Homo sapiens: one gene and its partners. The protein of the gene in region 2 purifies or fractionates together with the protein of the main gene of each other region. This does not show direct contact. Each region holds a gene or a part of one and is shown on either strand. Other genes may lie near its edges.

Evidence for each region.
Region 1: the proteins of ZNF154 (region 2) and GDA purify together in Homo sapiens (affinity purification with mass spectrometry; one large-scale study listed by BioGRID and IntAct). This does not show direct contact.
Region 3: the proteins of ZNF154 (region 2) and SMTNL2 purify together in Homo sapiens (affinity purification with mass spectrometry; one large-scale study listed by BioGRID and IntAct). This does not show direct contact.
Region 4: the proteins of ZNF154 (region 2) and QSOX1 purify together in Homo sapiens (affinity purification with mass spectrometry; one large-scale study listed by BioGRID and IntAct). This does not show direct contact.

What each region holds. Positions count from the first base shown.
Region 1 is NC_000009.12:72,210,928-72,215,471, reverse strand, and holds part of GDA (guanine deaminase), read right to left. Parts: intron 1,587-4,544; coding exon 1,481-1,586; intron 1-1,480. UniProt on the Homo sapiens protein: Catalyzes the hydrolytic deamination of guanine, producing xanthine and ammonia.
Region 2 is NC_000019.10:57,702,419-57,707,829, forward strand, and holds part of ZNF154 (zinc finger protein 154), read right to left. Parts: exon of another isoform or gene 2,706-5,411; coding exon of another isoform or gene 2,562-2,705; coding exon 2,435-2,561; intron 371-2,434; coding exon 1-370. UniProt on the Homo sapiens protein: May be involved in transcriptional regulation.
Region 3 is NC_000017.11:4,600,517-4,605,060, reverse strand, and holds part of SMTNL2 (smoothelin-like protein 2), read right to left. Parts: intron 1-4,544.
Region 4 is NC_000001.11:180,156,857-180,161,400, reverse strand, and holds part of QSOX1 (sulfhydryl oxidase 1 isoform a precursor), read right to left. Parts: intron 1-4,544. UniProt on the Homo sapiens protein: Catalyzes the oxidation of sulfhydryl groups in peptide and protein thiols to disulfides with the reduction of oxygen to hydrogen peroxide. Plays a role in disulfide bond formation in a variety of extracellular proteins.

The DNA of each region.
Region 1 (4,544 bases), on a different chromosome or scaffold from region 2:
CAGCATACATCCAGAACAACTTTCCTGTTCCCAAGGTAGGACGAAATAGTAGTGAAGGATGCATATACCACCTTGAGAAAACAATAAAAGATACCCTATTATGGTAACTTTTGGTGGTTTCATTACAAAAAAAAATTCTTCTTTATACCTTTTTGTGTTTCTCTAAGTTCTGGACCATGGAAACACATATTACTTTGGTATCTTTTAAAAAAATCCTTTTGTAGTGAAAGTCTTTCATTAACCTGTAACTATAACTCATTTTTCCTAACTTCTTGTATACTATTTTATTTCACAAATAATTATTCACTTCCATCATCATTTTTAAATTAACACATGCCATAGCAAGTATTCTTGCATACCCTCTGTTTCTCTCTCTTTTATTCTCTTTACTTACATTGAATATGAGGTGTGATCTATATCATGAGAGAAAGAACTTTGAGCCGGGCACAGTGGCTCATGCCTGTAATCCCAGTGCTTTGGGTGGCCAAGGCAGGTGGATCACCTGAGGTCAGGAGTTCAAGACCAGCCTGGCCAACCTGGTGAAACCACGTCTCTACTAAAAATACAAAAATTAGCTGGGTGTGGTGGCACGTGCCTGTAATCCCAGCTACTCGGGAGGCTGAGGCAGGAGAATCTCTTGAACACAGGAGGTGGAGGTTTCAGTGAGCTGAGATCGCGCCATTGCACTCCAGCCTGGGTGACAGAGTGACAGTCTGTCTCAAAAAAAGAAAAGAAAAGAAAAAAAAAAAAGAACTTTGAATTTAGAGTCATAGACCCTGGTTTTGAATTCTGGCTCCACTACTTAAAAGCTGTATGACTGTGAGCAAGCCTCTTAGCCTATGTCAGACTCAGCTTCCTTATCATAAAAGACAGATGTGGGCTGGGCGTGGTGGCTCACGCCTGTAATCTCAGCACTTTGGGAGGCCGAGGCGGGCAGATCACGAGGTCAGGAGTTCGAGACCAGCCCAGCCAACATAGTGAAACCCCGTCTCTACTAAAAATACAAAAATTAGCTGAGTGTGGTGGCATGCACCTATAGTCCCAGCTACTCAGGAGGCTGAGGTGGAAGAATCGCTTGAACCCAGGAGGCAGAGGTTGCAGTGAGCTGAAGGTTGCAGTGAGCTGAGACCACGCCATTGCACTCCAGCCTGGATGACAGAGTGAGACTCCGTCTCAAAAAAAAAAAATAAAAATAAATAAAAAATAAATAAAAAGACAGATGCTTCATGGAGATTTCTATGAGGATCAAGTGTGGCACTACAAAGGAAAGCTCTTTGTAAATCATTAATGATTATCGAGTGTTTGATCAAATTCACTGTAGACTAACCGACCCATTGCATTAAACAGAACATTCTGAGTCACTATGTGCACATCCCAACTGGGTGATAACAGTATCCTGTTTCCTTTTTCCATCTCTAACTCCATCAGTGCAGCACAGGAATTCACCTGTAAGACAAATCAAGACAAATGGGCCTTTTACCTCTCAGTTTCCTTGATCGATTCCTCAGTGGTCTCCTTGTATTCTGGAAAAGTGTCATTCAAATCCATGCAAACTTTGCCCACAAATGCCCGCTGTCCAAATTTATCTGTAAAGTATACACAAAAAGAATATGAAGGCATGTTTGTTTCTGAAACAGTACTTTTTCTTTTTCTTTTTTTTTTTTTTTTTGAGACGGAGTCCCGCTGTTTAGCCCAGGCCAGATTGCAGTGGCGCAATCTCGGCTCACTGCAAGCTCCGCCTCCCAGGTTCATGCCATTCTCCTGCCTCAGCCTCCCGAGTAGCTGGGACTACAGGCGCCCGCCACCGCGCCCGGCTAATTTTTTGTATTTTTAGTAGAGACGGGGTTTCACCGTGTTAGCCAAGATGGTCTCGATCTCCTGACCTTGTGATCCGCCCGCCTCGGCCTCCCAAAGTGCTGGGATTACAGGCGTGAGCCACCGCGCCCGGCCAAAACAGTACTTTTTCTAAGCTTTCAACAGTAATTTTTAAATTAAAATCATATATGGAAAACATAAATGAAAATGTAAAAGATCATCCACCATCACACCACTTAAGAACAAGAACCACCACAAATTCCCTACTATATTCAGTAAACAGTAAAAGTTTTTCTATTCATCACTTTAACCCACTACCTCCCCCATCCCCATTCTCAGGCTGTCAGGTGGGTTTTTTGGTTTTTTTGTTTGTTTGTTTGTTTTGTTTTTGAGACGGAGTCTCACTCTGTCACCAGCCTGGAGTGCAGTGGCGTGATCTGGGCTCACTGCAACCTCCAACTCCCTGGTTCAAGTGATTCTCCTGCTTCAGCCTCCTGAGTAGCTTGGATTACAGGCACGCACCACTGTGCCCAGCTAATTTTTGTATTTTTAGTAGAGACAGTGTTTCACCATGTTGGCCAGGATGGTTCGATCTCCTGACCTTGTGATCTGCCTGCCTGGGCCTCCCAAAGTGCTGGGATTGCAGGCGTGAGCCACTGTGCTTGGCTGGGTGTTTTTAAGTTATTATTCAGTTTTTCCCTTTGCTTATCCAGTGTGTCTATATTTTCATTAAATATGTAACTATCTTTGCTCTCATTTTATCACATGGTAAAGGAGCAAACAGTCTCAGGTCCTAAAGAAAGACTCTCTTAGTCATTGGCATACCTACACTCAGCTTCTTCTACCCCAACTTACAATCTCCCTCCTGTCTCCTACTCTACCACCATCCCTTGGATCTCTCTCTCTCCCTCTCTCTATCATGGTCCTCTTCTAGACAAAACACAGAATGGCTGAGGGATAAGAACATGAGCACTGGAATTGGAAAGATTTGGACTGATTCCTTATTCCTCTGATTACTCCAGGTGGTGGATATTATTTGGTTAAGGTCTAAACCTATATATGTACAGTGTTCTCTGCTATGTGTAGGGTTGTGAGGAATACATGCAATAATATATATAAGGTGTCAGGCATGTGGTTATCTAGGCAACATACTGCTACTATTCTTTTTTTTTTTTAAGGTGGCGTCTCACTCTGTCGCCCAGGCTGGAGTGCAGTGGCACAATCTCAGCTCACTGAAAGCTCTGCCTCCTGGGTTCACGTCATTCTCCTGCCTCAGCCTCCTGAGTAGCTGGGACTACAGGCGCCCACCACTACGCTTGGTTAATTTTTTGTATTTTTAGTAGAGACAGGGTTTCACCATGTTAGCCAGGATGGTCTCAATCTCCCGACCTCATGATCCGCCCGCCTCGGCCTCCGAAAGTGCCAGGATTACAGGCATTAACCACCGCGCCTGGCCATACTATTCTTAACTGAAACAATGCCAATATTATCTGTGAGGAATTTTACGCAGTCTTACTAGCAGCTCTCAGCACTAGAACCTAGTCCTCATCAAAGGTGCTGGAAGAATTCTATTTCAGCAAGAAAGCTGAGGCTATATGGGACAATGGTAATTGTTTTTACAGTGTCTCCATCTCTGTCATAAGAGATTTTTAAAAACCTTTCTGCCTCTCTCCTTCCCCTGTAATTCATTTAGATAACTGGCCATTAGATTAATCTTCCTTAAAATACCACTTTCATCACATCACTCACACCTGGACTCAGAACCTTTTTTGAGTCTTTGGTGCATATTTGAGCTCTTCTACAATGTGAACCCTCCCATCTGCCTACCCTCTTCTCCCACTGCCCCCAGGCGATGAATCCACTCCTCTAGTTAAACTACTGTGGTCCCTGCATCCACTATTGACACTCCTGTTCCCATACCTGTGTCCTTCCCCTATCTAGAAGACAGTTTGTCCTCTCCTCATCTTGTCTTTACTTCAAAGCCCAGTTTAAAGGACCCTTTCATAAAGCCTTCCCAGATGTCGTAGTTCTGGGTTCTCTTTGCCTTCTCTGAAGACTGTAGTATCTATTTTCAGAGTCACCCATTAGGTCAGGTCTTTTGCATAAGCAAACAGTGGCATCAGTGTATCAGCCAACAGTATTTACTGAGCACCTGCTATGTGCCAGGTACTGTGCTGGGTACAAGTTTTGGAATCATCAACCCGAATCCAGAATCAGCTCTTCTTACTAGCTGTGCAACCCTGGGCATGTTACTTATCCTCTCTGAGCGTCAGTCTAACCATCTGTAACATGAGGACATCAGTAACCACTTCAGAAGGCTGTTTGCTGCTGAACTAATTCTTCCAGAGTGCTTTGCACAATGCTAGACGTCTAGTAACAGCACCATAGTTGTTACTAAGGTTAGTGATCAATGGTGTAGGTATTCTGTCTGGCTTCTCAAGGGCAGAGACTATTTTTTATCTCATTGCGTTTCCAGCATCTAGCACAGTGCCCTGACTCTAGCCAATAGCCACCATGTATCTGCTGATATAAGAAACTATTACCACAACTAGAATTAGTAAAGTTTCCCTAAAAAGCCCTAAATTAATACACAAAATTCAGACTCATATATATCATTCTGTAACCAAAAATTGTAAGTAAATAATCAGAGTACTTAGAAAATAGAAAACACTCTATGATACAGTTTTCTATTTTCTAAGTACTTTAGAAAATTTCCTAAGGGCCACAGT
Region 2 (5,411 bases):
TTGAGACTGTAGCTTTTGCTAAAGGATTTCCCACATTCACTGCATATGTAACATCTTTCTGTAGTGAGGGTTCTCTGCTGCTGAACAAGTGTGTGTTTACCGCTGAATGCTTTTGTGTGTTCTCCACAGTTGTAATGAGTTTTTCCTCTGTGACTGATGGCCCCACCGTCGCTTTTGCTATTTGATTGCTCCCCAGTGTGAGCAGCCTGTTGATGGAGAAATCCCAACTTGGCCAGGAAGTCCTTCCCAACTTCTCTGCAGGTGGAAGGCTCCCCTGACACATGGAATGTGCAGGTCTTCACAAACAAGGCTCTGCCCACATTGCTTCTGAAATGTTTTTCTCCAAGGTGCTGCTTCTGATGATGAACATCTGCAATGAAATACAATTATTTCCCACATGCCCCACCTCTATATAATTTCTGCCTATGATGTGTCCCCTAGGGCCCAGCCAAGAGCAAAATGTCTCTCAAGACCAGGCTACACGTCTCACAGTGGTGGGCCTTCTAGGGAGAAAGATCTGCCTTAGAAGTCCTGAGTTGGGTCACTCCTTCTAAAGAAATGCTCTTGTCAGAAGGTGCCTCCTCATCCACCACTCTATGCCAAAAACCTAAAAGCAAGAAATGCTAGTGAAGTGCACATTAACTATGGTGGGAGGGGGCAGCCCTTATACAAGTGTGTGTATGACAAACCCAGGAACAAGTCCATGGGATCGTTTGCATGACAGTAGAGTTGGGTTCAGTTGCAGATGAGGCTGTTTAGCAATTCTAGGATAAAGATTACAAGAATGGGCCGGGTGCGGTGGCTCACATCTGTAATCCCAGCACTTTGGGAGTCCAAGGTGGGTGGATCACAAAGTCAGGAGTTTGAGACCAGCCTGGCCAATATGGTGAAACCCCGTCTCTACTAAAAATACAAAAATTAGCTGGACATGGTGGTGGGTGCCTGTAGTCCCAGGACTCAGGAGGCTGAGGCAGGAGAATCACTTGAACCCGGGAGGCGGAGGTTGCAGCGAGCCAAGATTGCACCACTGTACTCCAGCCTGGGTGACAGAAGGAGACTCCGTCTCAAAAAAAAAAAAAAAAAAAAAAAAGATTACAGGAATGTGGGAGATCTCAAGAGGTAAAGGCCACAACCATGAGGTATCACAAAGAGAGAGGCAGGGTCTAAAACTAAATCCTCTGCAAACAACTTTAGCAGAAGCTTATCTGCTGGCGACACATGAGTGCTATGTAGAATAGTATATGCAAGCCCATGGAAATACGACTGCAATGCAGCAGCTGGCCTTCAAGGACTGTTTAAGAGTATGTGCAAGGACAGGCGCAGTGGCTCACACCTGTAATCCCAGCACTTTGGGAGGCCAAGGTGGGTGGATCACAAGGTCAGGAGTTCAAGACCAGCCTGGTCAAGATGGTGAAACCCCATCTCTAAAAAAATACAAAAATGAGCCAGGTGCAGTGGCATGCGCCTGTAATCACAGCTACTCAGGAGGCTGAGGCAGGAGAATTACTTGAACCTGGGAGGCAGAGGTTGCAGTAAGCCGAGATCATGCCACTGCACTCCAGCCTGGGTGACAGAGTGAGACTCCGTCTCAAAAAAAAAGAGTATGTGCATACCTCATGACACACTATATAGAGGCTAACGTTAGAAAGAACTGCAGGTGTAGCAGTGAGAAAAACAGATAAGATACGGAGTCCAGAGATGTGAGGATTAGCCCCAGGCTGGATGTTAAGAGCAGAAGTGACAAGTAGTAGAGCTGACTTGTCAGCAAAATGTCAAGAATGGTGAAGGGAAACCGGAAGTGAGCTGTGACCACTGGCATTGGCACCAAAATGCTCGCCAAACAGAACAGGTTGCTGCTCTGATACAGCATCTGGATAATGTAAGTACTAAGGGAAGAAAGAACAGAAGAGCAGCCTGCACTGTCCCACAAAAAACTCAGCACATGACAGCCCACAGGAAAAACACACACACACACAAATACTACAAAGAAAATTTCAGAGGAATACTTTGTAAGAAGAGTCCATGGTCTACATAAGTAGTGACCATGTCAGTGACAATAACTCCTGGCATAGGCAGGCATAATGAAATGCCAGCTCGGGATGGAAGTAGTAGCTGGGGCACACAGGATCCTCAAATCTGGAAAAAGTCACCCAGACATGGAGGGGACAATCAAGGTGGGATCCACTAGGGTGACTGCAAGACTGCAGACTCTGAATCCTTCCCTGTGAGGCTGTGAGGAAACAGGTACTGGGGCTCCTCAAGGAGAGGAGAAGACAGTATGCACACCTTAGTCTTACCAATGACAGAACTATGCAGGGAACTGAGAAAGAAGCAGAGCCCATAGTCTTGTCATGAGAAGGACAGACCTGCCTATAGAGAAAAGAGGAAGGGCACAGACTAGCTCAGGGCACAGGAAAGGGTAAAAGAACCTTACCTAGAGAGGTTAAAAGAGCCAAGTTCTCCAGCATCACATCACGGTACAGGCATCTTTGAGCCTCATCAAGGAGACCCCATTCCTCCCAGGAGAAGTGTACGGCCACATCTTCAAAGGTCACAGTGCCCTGCCACAATGGGAACAGATGAAACCACCAAGAGCCCCTATCCCAAGGACCCACAATGCATACCCCCACATCTTTACCCCATGCCCATTCTCTTCCCAAGCTCCCCAACTGAGAGGAGAAACCAGCACATGGATAAATAGGCATCTAAGCTGGGGGCCTGGCATGGAAGGATCCATACTATCCCATCATGAAATCCCCCTGAAATGTCCAAGGTCATCTAAGTCTCAATACCAGGGCCCTGCAGCTGTCACTTACTCCCTTTCCAGATGCACATCATTCTTCAGAATACACATCCCTCCTATCTCCAGACACCACAGCCCCAAGCCCAGGGCTGCCACCTCACTGCCCACACCATAGGCATCTCCCTGCTCTTACCTCCCATGTCACTGTTTTAATCTCTTCCTCTTTACCCCATTAGCGAAGGCAGGATTGCCACACTAGGGTTATGGATATGGACAAACACACAATACCTGACACTAGAAAGACGATACAGCAGTTGGGTATGGTGGCTCATGCCTGTAATCCCAGCACTTTGGGAGGCCAAGACGGGTGGATCACGAGGTCAGGAGTTCAAGACCAGCCTGACCAATATGGCGAAACCCCATCTCTACTAAAAATACAAAAATTAGCCGGGCGTGGTGAAGCACACCTGTAATCCCAGCTACTCAGGAGGCTGAGGCAGGAGAATTGCTTGAACCCAGGAGGCGGAGGTTGCAGTGAGCCAAGATTGCGAAACTGCACTCCAGTCTGGGCGACAGAGCGAGACTCCGTCTCAAAAAAAAAAAAAAAAGAAAGATGATATAGCAGTTTATTAATCATATGTACATAGAACCTGGGAGATGAGGACAACATGTACCACACAGGGTCACATGGGGGTCTAGTCCAGAAAAAAAGTGAATAACCAAAAACTGTGGGATGCAAGCACTTTGAGAACAAAAGGATCAACTGCCCCCTGGTTCCCACAATGGGCTTGTTTGGAAAACTCCATGACCTGGTAGGGAGCTGAAATCTGCTACAAAGTGATAGGCAGAAATTGTGCCTGGTCTCCTTGATTAAAAGGGTTGTCTGTTTGGGAGAAGAGTAGGGAGGGAAACTTGTACTCAGGCCATTTGATGCCACCCTGATTTCACCAGATGTCATACTGGGCCTTAATTTTAGACTTTACACCATAACTTAGCACACAGCGTCCAGAGTATGCTCGACAGATTCAAACGGATCTAATACTACCCTAGATCTCCCAGGGCATCCACTAGTGGTAGCAGCCCCAAATCCTATGAGGGCTCCCTGGCTGGCTCCATTCTTTGCCTCAGATTTAGGCCACACAGAACCACATGTGCATCTCAGATACCCATGGCCCTATTCCACTTCCGTGCTGCACTTGCTAGCCCCTCAGCAGTAACAACCTTCCTCTGTCCACTTAACACTCAAAGACTAGCTCCACTGATCACCTACCCCAGGCCAAGTGACTGTCACAGATGACCACATTGGCACCTGGCCTTATCCTCCAGGTTGAATAAACACCCTAGGCCCCATCAAAGTCATCAAAAAATCCTGGTGATTCCACAGAGTGCTGAATAAGCACAAAGGAAAAAAAGGACAGCCATTTGCCTCAAATACACCTATGCCTCTGCATCCACCTTATATCCACTCTTCCCTTGAAAGTGTATGCCACCTGCCCAACTATCCTCTCCAAACACCCTACCTCCATAGCCACTAACCTCCCTTACCTCTGTTTAGAAAGCCCAAGAATATCACCCACTTATCCAACCAAAAGGCTTGGTCCTTAGCCCCCATTCTGCCCTTCCTGGCCAAATAACCTGTACCACCATGCCTAAAGATTAACCCTTGTAGGCCGGATGCGGTGGCTTACGCCTGTAATCCCAGAACTCTGGGTGGCTGAGGCGGGTGGATCACCTGAGGTTGGGAGTTCAAGACTAGCCTGACCAACATGGAGAAACCCTGTCTCTACTAAATAAATACAAAATTAGCCGGGCGTGGTGGCGCATGCCTGTAATCCCAGCTACTCGGGAGGCTGAGGCAGGAGAATTGCTTGAAGCCGGGAGGCGGAGGTTGTGGTGAGCCAAGCTCGCGCCATTGCACTCTGGCCTGGGCAACAAGAGAGACACTCCATCTCAAAAAAAAAAAAAAAAAATAGAACAACCCTTCTAAATGTAATCCACAGCTCACTCACCTTAGTCCACACAATGACCACCACATTTTGGATGTCTCCATTCTGAAGCACTCCCCAGATTTCCAGACCTGGGTGTTCAGCCACCTACTTAATGCCTACTTAATGTCTCTGAAACATCTCAAACTCTTACATGACCAAATAAAGCTCCTGTTGTCTCCAGTGAATATTACTGTTAATACCAACTTCTCCATCTCAGTTGAAGAACCATGGGGTCATCGCTGAATCCTGTTTCACTCCCTCGCTGTCTACATCAGAAAATTTAGTTGCTCCCTTTAAAAATTTGCATCCAGAATGCAACACATCTCCTAATCAATGACTCTGGTCCATTACCCTGGACTGGCTGTAGCTTCCACTCTGATCTTCTTTCCTCTTCCCTCAACCCCACAGTCTGCTCTCCACGCTAACGGGATGGACCCTGTTAGGACTTTGGTAAGATCACCTCCCTCTTGTAACCCAAATCTCTCATTACCTCCAGAATAGGTACCCAACTTCTCAGGCAGCCACTGCAGTCCTGACTCCTTCCCCCTGCTCTTTGTTCCCAGCTAAAAGGAAACAGATCTATGGTTTCCTCAAAAATCTCAGCTTAGTTTTACTAAGCACTTGCGCCTCCTGATACCAGTGCCAGAGATAACCTTTCACAAGTTTCCACTGGCTGACAA
Region 3 (4,544 bases), on a different chromosome or scaffold from region 2:
TGTGAGATCAAAACAGTAGAGTTCAAACCCCGACTCCTCCCATTGCTTCACTGTTCTGTGCCCATTTCCTTAGCACAAAATCGGAATACTGGCCGGGCACGGTGGCTCACACCTGTAATCCCGGCACTTTAGGAAGCCGAGGCGGGCAGATTGCCTGAGGCCAGGAGTTCCAAACCAGCCTGACCAACATGGTGAAACCCTGTCTCTACTAAAAACACAAAATTAGCCAGGCATGGTGGTGCACGCCTGAAATCCCAGCTACTTGGGAGACTGAGGCTGGAGAATCGCTTGAACCCAGGAGGTGGAGGTTGCAGTGAGCCGAGATCGTGCTACTGCACTCCAGCCTGCTGACAGAGCGAGACTCTGTCTCAAAAAAAAAGAAAAAAATCAGAATACCACCTCTGCTGTCCCTCCCAGTGGGCCTGTTGTGAGGCTGTGATTCCACAATGTGTCTTTATGCATCTTGTTCCCCAGAGAGCCCAGCCAGAGGGGAGACCCCAGCGAGCGAGCAAGACTCCTCTGACCCATCCCAGTTTGGCACGACGCACTCAGCACTTTCTACCAGGACTCACGCGGCTGTGTGCTCCAGAGACAAGACTGTAACATTACCCGCAGGCCCTGCTCTGCTGTGCTGGCTGGACGCCAGGCCTCCTACCAGAAACCAAATGTCAAGGCGAAATGGAGGCATCTGTCCTGGATCCCCTCCCCACCTCCTGCTTGGAGTTGTAGCGGGTGGCCTGTAAGTGAATCCAACAGGCTTTGTGGGGTGATGAGTGGGTTTGGCCCAATGAGCGGGCACCCTTTCTCCCTGGGACAGGCCAGGGCAGGGCTCGATGTCAGGGAAGCTGGCCCTCTGATGCGAGCAGGCGTGCAAAGGTGCTTTGTCGATGATAAAGCATTGAAAAATCTGAGTTCAGGCCGGGCGCGGTGGCTCATGCCTGTCATCCCAACATTTTAAGAGGCTGAGGTGGGCAGATCATTTGAGGTCAGGAGTTGGAGACCATCCTGGCTAACATGGTGAAACCCCGTCTCTACTAAAAATACAAAAATTAGCTGGGTGTGGTGGCGTATGCCTGCAGTCCCAGCTACTCGGGAGGCTGAGGCAGGAGAATCACTTGAACTCGGGAGGCGGAGGTTGCAGTGAGCCAAGATCATGCCACTGCACTCCAGCCTGGGCGACAGAGTGAGACTCTATCTCAAGGGGAAAAAAAAGGAAAGAAAAGAAAATCTGAGTTCAGAGAGGCTGGGGACCTGAGTTCACCTTCCTGAGCGATCATTTCATATCTGGTGCCCTCCTTTCCACCTGCCACACAGCTGGGGCACCTCCACTCCCACACCTGCTATTTGGAGGATCCCAGGTGTGTAGAAACAGGCTCCACACATGCTCTGGTTATCAGCACTGACGGCGGTGGCCTCAGTGGTGCCACATGTTAAGTAGGGACAGCATGAGGACTCTAGGACCTCCAACCATCCAAACACCCCCGTCAGAAGCACCAATCACCTCTATAAAGGCCCTGCCTCAGCTTGTTCATCTCAGGGTCCAGGGAAAGGGGACCCAATTTCCTCCAAGGACAGCTCAGAACCCTCTGCAGATGCTCTGACCACGAGAAAGTTCTTCTAACATTTCTTACGCTATTTGTGCCTGTGTGTACTTTCTACCTGCTGACCCCATAAGGCTACTTATTCTCAGTCTGATTTTTCCCCCATGTCAGAACCCTTCACACGCCAGAAGAAAACCTTCCTTCCATGTCTTTCTCTGAACTAAACAGCTCTGGTTCCTTAACTGTTCCCACAAAGGATACCCAGGACCCACCTCTCCGAACCAGGTCTTGCCACTCCCTAACCCACTTCATAGGAGGCCCTCAGAATTGCCGGCATTTTCCGGGTGTTGTCCAGCCTCTGCAGAAGACAGCAAGCTGACCCCTCCTCATTCTAGAGGCTGCGTTTACCCTCTGATAATGACCCCTGGTGGGCCCCTGCCCTGGTGGCAAGTCTTCAAGTCCAGGGTGGCAGTCAGGATGGGAGTGGATGCCATGCCCTGTGTCATCCTCCGCTGTCCAGATCGCCGGCTTCCCCAGCAGGCAACCAGGGCACTGGGCCATGATCCATATGGTCCCCACTGTTGTTATTTCTAAGTTGAGTACATGAGAGTGTAGGGGTTCCTAGGGGAGCAGGGAGGGGTCACAATATGCAACACGCAACCACCGTCTCCTGGCTCCCTCTTTTCTTCACCTGCCACCTTTGCTCTTCACCCACTTCTTTTCCTGGGGAGCTCCAAATTCCGCCTCCCACAGGCAGAGAGCATTCTCTGTCTTTGAAGCACAGCTCACAGCAGACCTTCAAGGGCACCCACCTTCCACGGATCACCTGAGGTCAGGAGTTCGTGACCAGCCTGGGCAACATGGCAAAACCCCGTCTCTACTAAAAATACAAAAATTAGCTAGGTGCCGTGGCTCAAGCCTGTAATCCCAGCACTTTGGGAGGCTGAGGCGAGAGGATCACCTGAGGTCAGGAGTTCAAGACCAGCCTGGCCAACATGGTGAAACCCCATCTCTACTAGAAATACAAAAATTAGCTGGGCATGGTGGCGCATGCCTGTAATCCCAGCTACTCGGGAGGCTGAGGCAGGAGAATCGCTTGAATCCAGGAGGTGGAAGTTGCAGTGAGCTGAGATTATTCCACTGCACTCCAGCCTGGGCAACAAGAACGAAACTCCATCTCAAAAAAAAAAAAAAAAAAAAAAAAAAAAGCACCTGCCTTCCACCCCAGATTGTCCCTGCAAAGGGAGCACTCTCCCTCAGAGACATGGTGCCAGCTTCAATGGCACAGGTTCATCATACCGAATCCAAAATGCGCCAATGAGCATTTCCTTTCAGCATTGTGTCTGGCACTCAAAAAGTTTCAGATTTTTGAGCCTTTGGATTTTTTAAATTTGGGATGCTCAACCGGTAAGTATTATATAATGCAAATATTCCAAAATCTAAAATCCAAAACACTTCTGGTCCCAGGCCATTTTGGATAAGGGATATTTGACCTATGATGGCAAGATTCCTGGAAGCTGCAGACATAGGCTGGACAAAACTCGGGAGACAGCAGAAAAAGAAAGTGATGATCAGCATTGACATTTATAAAAAATGTTTGAGTCTCCAAATATTAGAGGTCCCAATTGCCTTTTAAATTAAAAAAAAAACAACAACTGCTTTTGTAAAAATGATACAGGTTTGTTTTAATGATTCAAACAGGCCAAGTGCGGTGGTTCATGCCTGTAATCCCAGCACTTTGGGAGGCTGAGACGGGAGGATCACTTGAGGCCAGGAGTTTGAGACCAGCCTGGCCAACATAGTTAGACCCCGTCTCTAAAAAAAAAAAAATAGCCAAGTGTGGGGGTGTGTGCCTGTAGTCCCAGCTACTTGGGAGGCCGAGGCAGGAGGATCACTTGAGCTTGGGAGTCTGAGGCTACAGTGAGCTGTGATTGCACCACTGTATTCCAGCCTGGGAGACAAAGTGTGATCTTGTGTCAATCAATCAATCAATCAATCAATCAATCATTCAAACAGAAAGTTCAAAGGAGAAAGTAAAAATCACTTTAAATGCCATTCCATAGCAAGAACCAGAGTTAACATGGGCTGACTACATTTTTTTTTTTGAGATGAGGTCTCACTCTGTTGCCCAGGCTGGAGTGCAGTGGCACCATCTGGGTTCACTGCAATCTCTGCCATCCGGGCTCAAACGATCCTCCCACTTCAGCCTCCCAAGTAGCTGGGACCACAGGTGTGCACCACCACACCAAGATAATTTTTTGTATTTTCTGTAAAGGTGAGGTCTTGCCACGTTGCCCAACCTGGTCTCAAACTCCTAAGCTCAAGCAATCCACCTGCCTTGGCCTCCCAAAGTCCTGGGATTGGATCGCAGGCATGAGCCACTGTGCGCGGCCAATCCCGACGACCATTTTTAAAGTGTCTTTGCTTACGCCCCGCATCAGTGGGGTGGGGAAAAGGCTGAAAGGGTTTTCTCCTACTCCTGTCTATTGTGAGCTTCAGCTACCACAGGGCTGTCCTGTAAGGGAGCTGGAGGATGGGCTTGGGGGTTATTTTTATTTTTTTAAGCCTGCTCTAAATGCAGACCAGGATGCCAGGACTGGGACTACTGCCTCCTATCTGGTTTTAGACAGAGACACATGGGCACTACAAATAGCCTGGAAGGCCCTTCTGCTCCAGCGTAACCCGAGAGCAGGACACATTCCCCGCAGGGCAAGCGGGAAGCCTGGGGCTGCACGTCCTGCACTGGGCCTCTGCAGAGGTGGAAAGGACGGGTGCAGAAGGGTCAGGCGCCCGCCCGACTCAGCCCCTTCCATAAAAGGGGCCGGTCCTCCCTCGTTCCAGACCCTGAACACCTGTCAGGCAAGGGAAGCTCGCTGTGCTGTCAACACTGCATCATTCACACAGATTAGGCCACCGGGAATCTCTGGGACCATAAATTATCAGGTGGGGGTTGGGGAAGGGCAGCACACACCACTTTTACTCCAAAGGTCCCTGGTGCATCCT
Region 4 (4,544 bases), on a different chromosome or scaffold from region 2:
GCAGGTGAAATCTGAAGTTGGGCTTGGGTTGACTTCCTAGCCTTGAGAAGTTGTTAAAAGTCCAATCTGAGATTCCTTATCGATAAGTTCTAGCAAAGCAAACTTAAGAAGAGCCTACGTGGTCAATCACTATTCTTGCCACACTTATGTAAATAATTAGGCCAAGTCTGATGTGACTAAATATTTTCTGCAAGCAAATTAGTCTGAATTTTATTTTATTTATTTTATTTTATTTTATTTTAGATGGAGTCTTGCTCTGTCATCCAGGCTGGAGTGCAGTGGTGCAATCTCGGCTCACTGTGACCTCTGCCTCCCACTTACCCTGATTATCTTTGGTAGAAATGGGGGTGACTATAGAGAGAAAAAATATGTTCCTAAAGAAAAACTATAGTACATCTGTTATTAGATTGTAGCCTTGTTGATCATTTTCAAGTTTTTATCATCTACCTATAAGATGGATTGAATTCTGAATTCTTCCAGTTTCTTCCAATAACTAGCTACAATTCTCCAACTAAGAACAGGAACTGTTCTGTGCCTAAAGCCCTATAAACAGAAGCTGAACAACTTGATATACATTTCAAGGGACAAGTCTCATGCCTGACGTGTACGCTACACAAAGAGTTCACCAAAATGCCCAATGCCATAACCAGAGACAATCAAACTGCAAACCAGGACAAGAAGTTGACAACTTCATGCTTTCCCAAAACTTCTGAACAAGAGTTTCATTGGAATAAGACTTCCACTTTATCCTTGATTACATCTACCTTTTTTTGTCTGGCAGGATAATGCTGTAGTTAGAATTTCACAATCAGTGGCTTCTGTGGGTAACTTCACAAACTGTTGGATTTGTCACGCTAAACCCAGATCTTTACATGACCAAAGGGATCCTTTAGTCTGCCCAGTGGGTAACTTCAGCAACATCCCTAACACAACTGTTGTTCAAACTGTACTAGTGGTCCCTTTTATAGAGTCAGACTTTTAGACCCATGTGTTCTCACTTCCTGCTTTAATTTAACCCAGTCATGGGATACTAGATAATAGAACTGCTACCTACTAGCGAACAGGGAATCTGTGCAATTGCTGACACTTTCTGTTGCACATGGATAGACACATAGTGTATTGAGACTCAGTTGCAAAAAAATGAACAAATAGTACTTGCTTAAAAAGGGTAAATTCCTCATCTGGCTCATTCTTTGATCTCTTCAATTTTAGTTGGTTTGGTTCATGGGTCCCTGGCTAAGCGTCATATTGTAAACTCTTAGTATTATCCTGGGGAGAGTCATTACAGTAGTTTCCCTGTTACACTGTATCCTCTCAAAGAGTCTTAAATATCTATATGCAGCCCTCTGCTGAATGCTAAATGGTCTCTCTCCAGCTGGAATGATAAAACTCCAAGAAACGCATGATAATGAGGACACCTTAACCTATAAATGATGTGTTAAGACCGAAAACCCAAAACGATGATTACTGAGAGTAGTGCTGATGCCCTGTTTTAGTAACTCTCACCTAGGTGAGAACCTGACCAAAAGGGGAGAACTGTTAAATAATATTTCTAGGAGGCCATTGGTTGGGACTGAGCTCCTGCACAAGGCCCAAGAGACCAAACCAAGATGGAGTCCCTCAAGCTGAAGTTCCACGCCACCAAGCCAAAACTAAGCTGTCGATCTGACCTTCCAAGATCAGGAGAGAGTGAGTTAACAGTCAAATCTTCAAACAAGCCAGTTTCAGCCAACATACAGAAGTCTCCTCTGCTTTAACCTTTAAAAGGGACCGAAATAACCAATCAGATTTTTGATCTGTTTCTACTTTCTTCAGCCTTTTTCTGTCTATAAAGCCAAACTCCTCTGCTCAGCTCATCAGAATACTCATTCTGTAAGACAGAATGTGGTGTTGTCCGATTCCAGAATCACAAATAGAAGCCAGTTAAGATTTTTGAATGTGGTGTAATTTTGTCTTTTGACAAGTAACAGGAGATGGAATAGAGAAGGTCCTTATGTGAGTGCTCCATTGTTAAAGCAAAGCTGCATTTAAGCTTTACTGTCAACGCAATGCAGAGCTGGGTGACAGAGGCTTTTTGAAGTGTCAGGTGTCTTAAATGCCTAACACCAAAATGATCAGTAGTATCAGTCTAGCTCTACTACTGGGGAGAAAACCCTTTCCTGGTGCAATTATTGCTCTGAACAGCGTAATTTTTCTACCAACCACAGAATAAATGGACTAATGGAGAGGGGAAGGGTGGCGAGGCAAGAGAAGTTGGACAGCTGTAAATCTTGGATTGATGGGTGAGGGGATGCCCTCTGGTAGGGGGTGTTGTGGGGATTCTGCTGAGCCCCCACTGGGGGCTTGGTCTGGAGTCAAGGGCAGCGTCCCCTGCCCCACTCACAAGTGCAGGGAGGGCACTGGGTGGAGCAGGAAGCCTTGCTTGGAGTTTAACTGGCTGCAGCACCGTGAGCTCCACATGTCTCTCTGGACCTCTGCTTCCTCCTGGATCAGCGAGGGCCAGGATGAATGATCTCTAATGCCCCTTCTAGCTCTGACAACCGTTGAGGTGCTGGATGGCAAACAACTCTTAACAAGAAACATGCAGCCTCCGAGTGTTAAGTGGGTCTGGACTTCCATGAAGACAGAGGCACAGATTTACCCAAACCACCAAGAGCCAGTCAGACCTGGTGGTCTAGTGACTAGAATCTACTGACCCTCAGCTCTGGACTCTACACCGAAGAATTCAGGAGCTCTCCTGACACAGAGAGTTAGTTTATGCCCTGTCCAGCTAGTCAGCACTATGCGGTCACCAACTCATGCCTTCCTTCCTCCTTGCTGACAGTTTCTGGGCAGTGACGTCACTGGATGGACAAAATGCCTTCTCTACCCCTCACACCTGGCTGACACCCCCGGTCTGAGTCAAGAGGATCCACGGCACCAGCAGAAGGTTCTACACTCACGCTGTCATTTGGAATCCTGTGAGGCTCAGGCCACTGGCCACCATGAACGTGCAGTGGGCTCCTACTCTGCACCAGGCTCTGTGCTGGGAATCACAGGTACACATAGCAGATGTGGCCTGTGCCGTGGAAGAGAAGGGGGGCAAAACCAACACTGCTCACTGTCACTCAAACACACGCCTTACGAACCTCACCTCCATAGCTCGGCACATGCTGTTTTTCCACCTGGAGTATCCTTCCTCCTCCACCCACCTCTCTACCTGCCCAGGCTCCAGAAAGCCAAAAAGAGCTGGAGTCAATGACCTTCTCCAGCATCTGTGTAAACCTGGAAAGTTACTTACCTGTTTTAAAAAAAGAGGAAGACAATATCCATAGTACAGATATTTTCCCGGGTAAGGATTGTCATAATAATGGCCTGTGAAGGCCCTTAGCAAAGTGCTGGCATAAGGCAAGCGTGTAATAAATAACTACTGGCATGAAGGCCTCTGGTGATCAGATTAGCCCTCTGTGACTTTCCCCTCCCCTGGGTTCCCATAAGAAATGGCTGAACCACTCCTTTGGCCTTTTTCAAACACAGCTTTGTAACAGTTGCCAATTTTCCTTCTATGAGTAGCTCATTTCCCCAACTGCAATGCAAACAATGCTTATCACTCAACAAATATTTGCTGATTGATTAGCCAGTGAATAGCAATGAAGGTCTAAATTGGATACAACCAGTTTCCAAAACATACAGTGAGACAACCGGAGCTGCTCTGGAATAGAAAGGGGATAAACCAGGTTCTCAGAAACACATGCTCTGCCCCGGGGCAGCAGGTGCCTAGAGAATCTACTGCCCTAGTCACTGAAGAAATGAACCCTATTCAGTCAGATTAAATGCCTGAAGCCAGCCAAATATGGCTGCAAAATTCTTCTCTCTCCCTGTGACCTTCACTCTGTCTCTGTTCCTGCCTCAAGATACAGGTGTCCTCAGCAGAGAGCATGGGCAGTACTCACACAGCCCAGGGTGGGATGAGCACAGCCCTCTGCGGGCCCACAACCAACCTTTCTCAAGAAACCTCAGGACACAGAGATGAAGCGAGACCAACCCTAGCTTCTCAGCAGGGCCTCACCAGGGAACACCCCTTTGGGTTAGAGTGGAGGACATTCTTCATTGCAGGCTGACAGCAGATTCTGCCAGTGCCCTCCCAACACGATCTGGCTCAAGGACTGACTCACACCAATGGCTCACAGGAGACCTCCAGTTTCCACTGAAATCTCCCACCTCCCATTTACCCTGGCTCACCCCCACAGACTTTGATCCTTCCATTTCCTTTTCAGAGGTTAAATTCTGATTTCGCTTTCTTATTTTAGAGAAAGGCTCCATGCACTGGGGAATCCTGTTTGGAAGTGGTAACCCTCATCCAGGAGCAGAATGGGTCAGTATCTAGACATGCAACTCATAGGAAAACTAAAAACTCTGCATTGCAAGAGGCCAAACATGTGAGTCAGCTGGAAGCTAATCTTTCCCCCCAGCACTCTCAAGAAGGAAGAAATTCTAGAATAAGTCCATCTGCAGCCACTGAACACCTCTTATAACCTCAAAGTGGAAAGCGATCTGGGAATTTT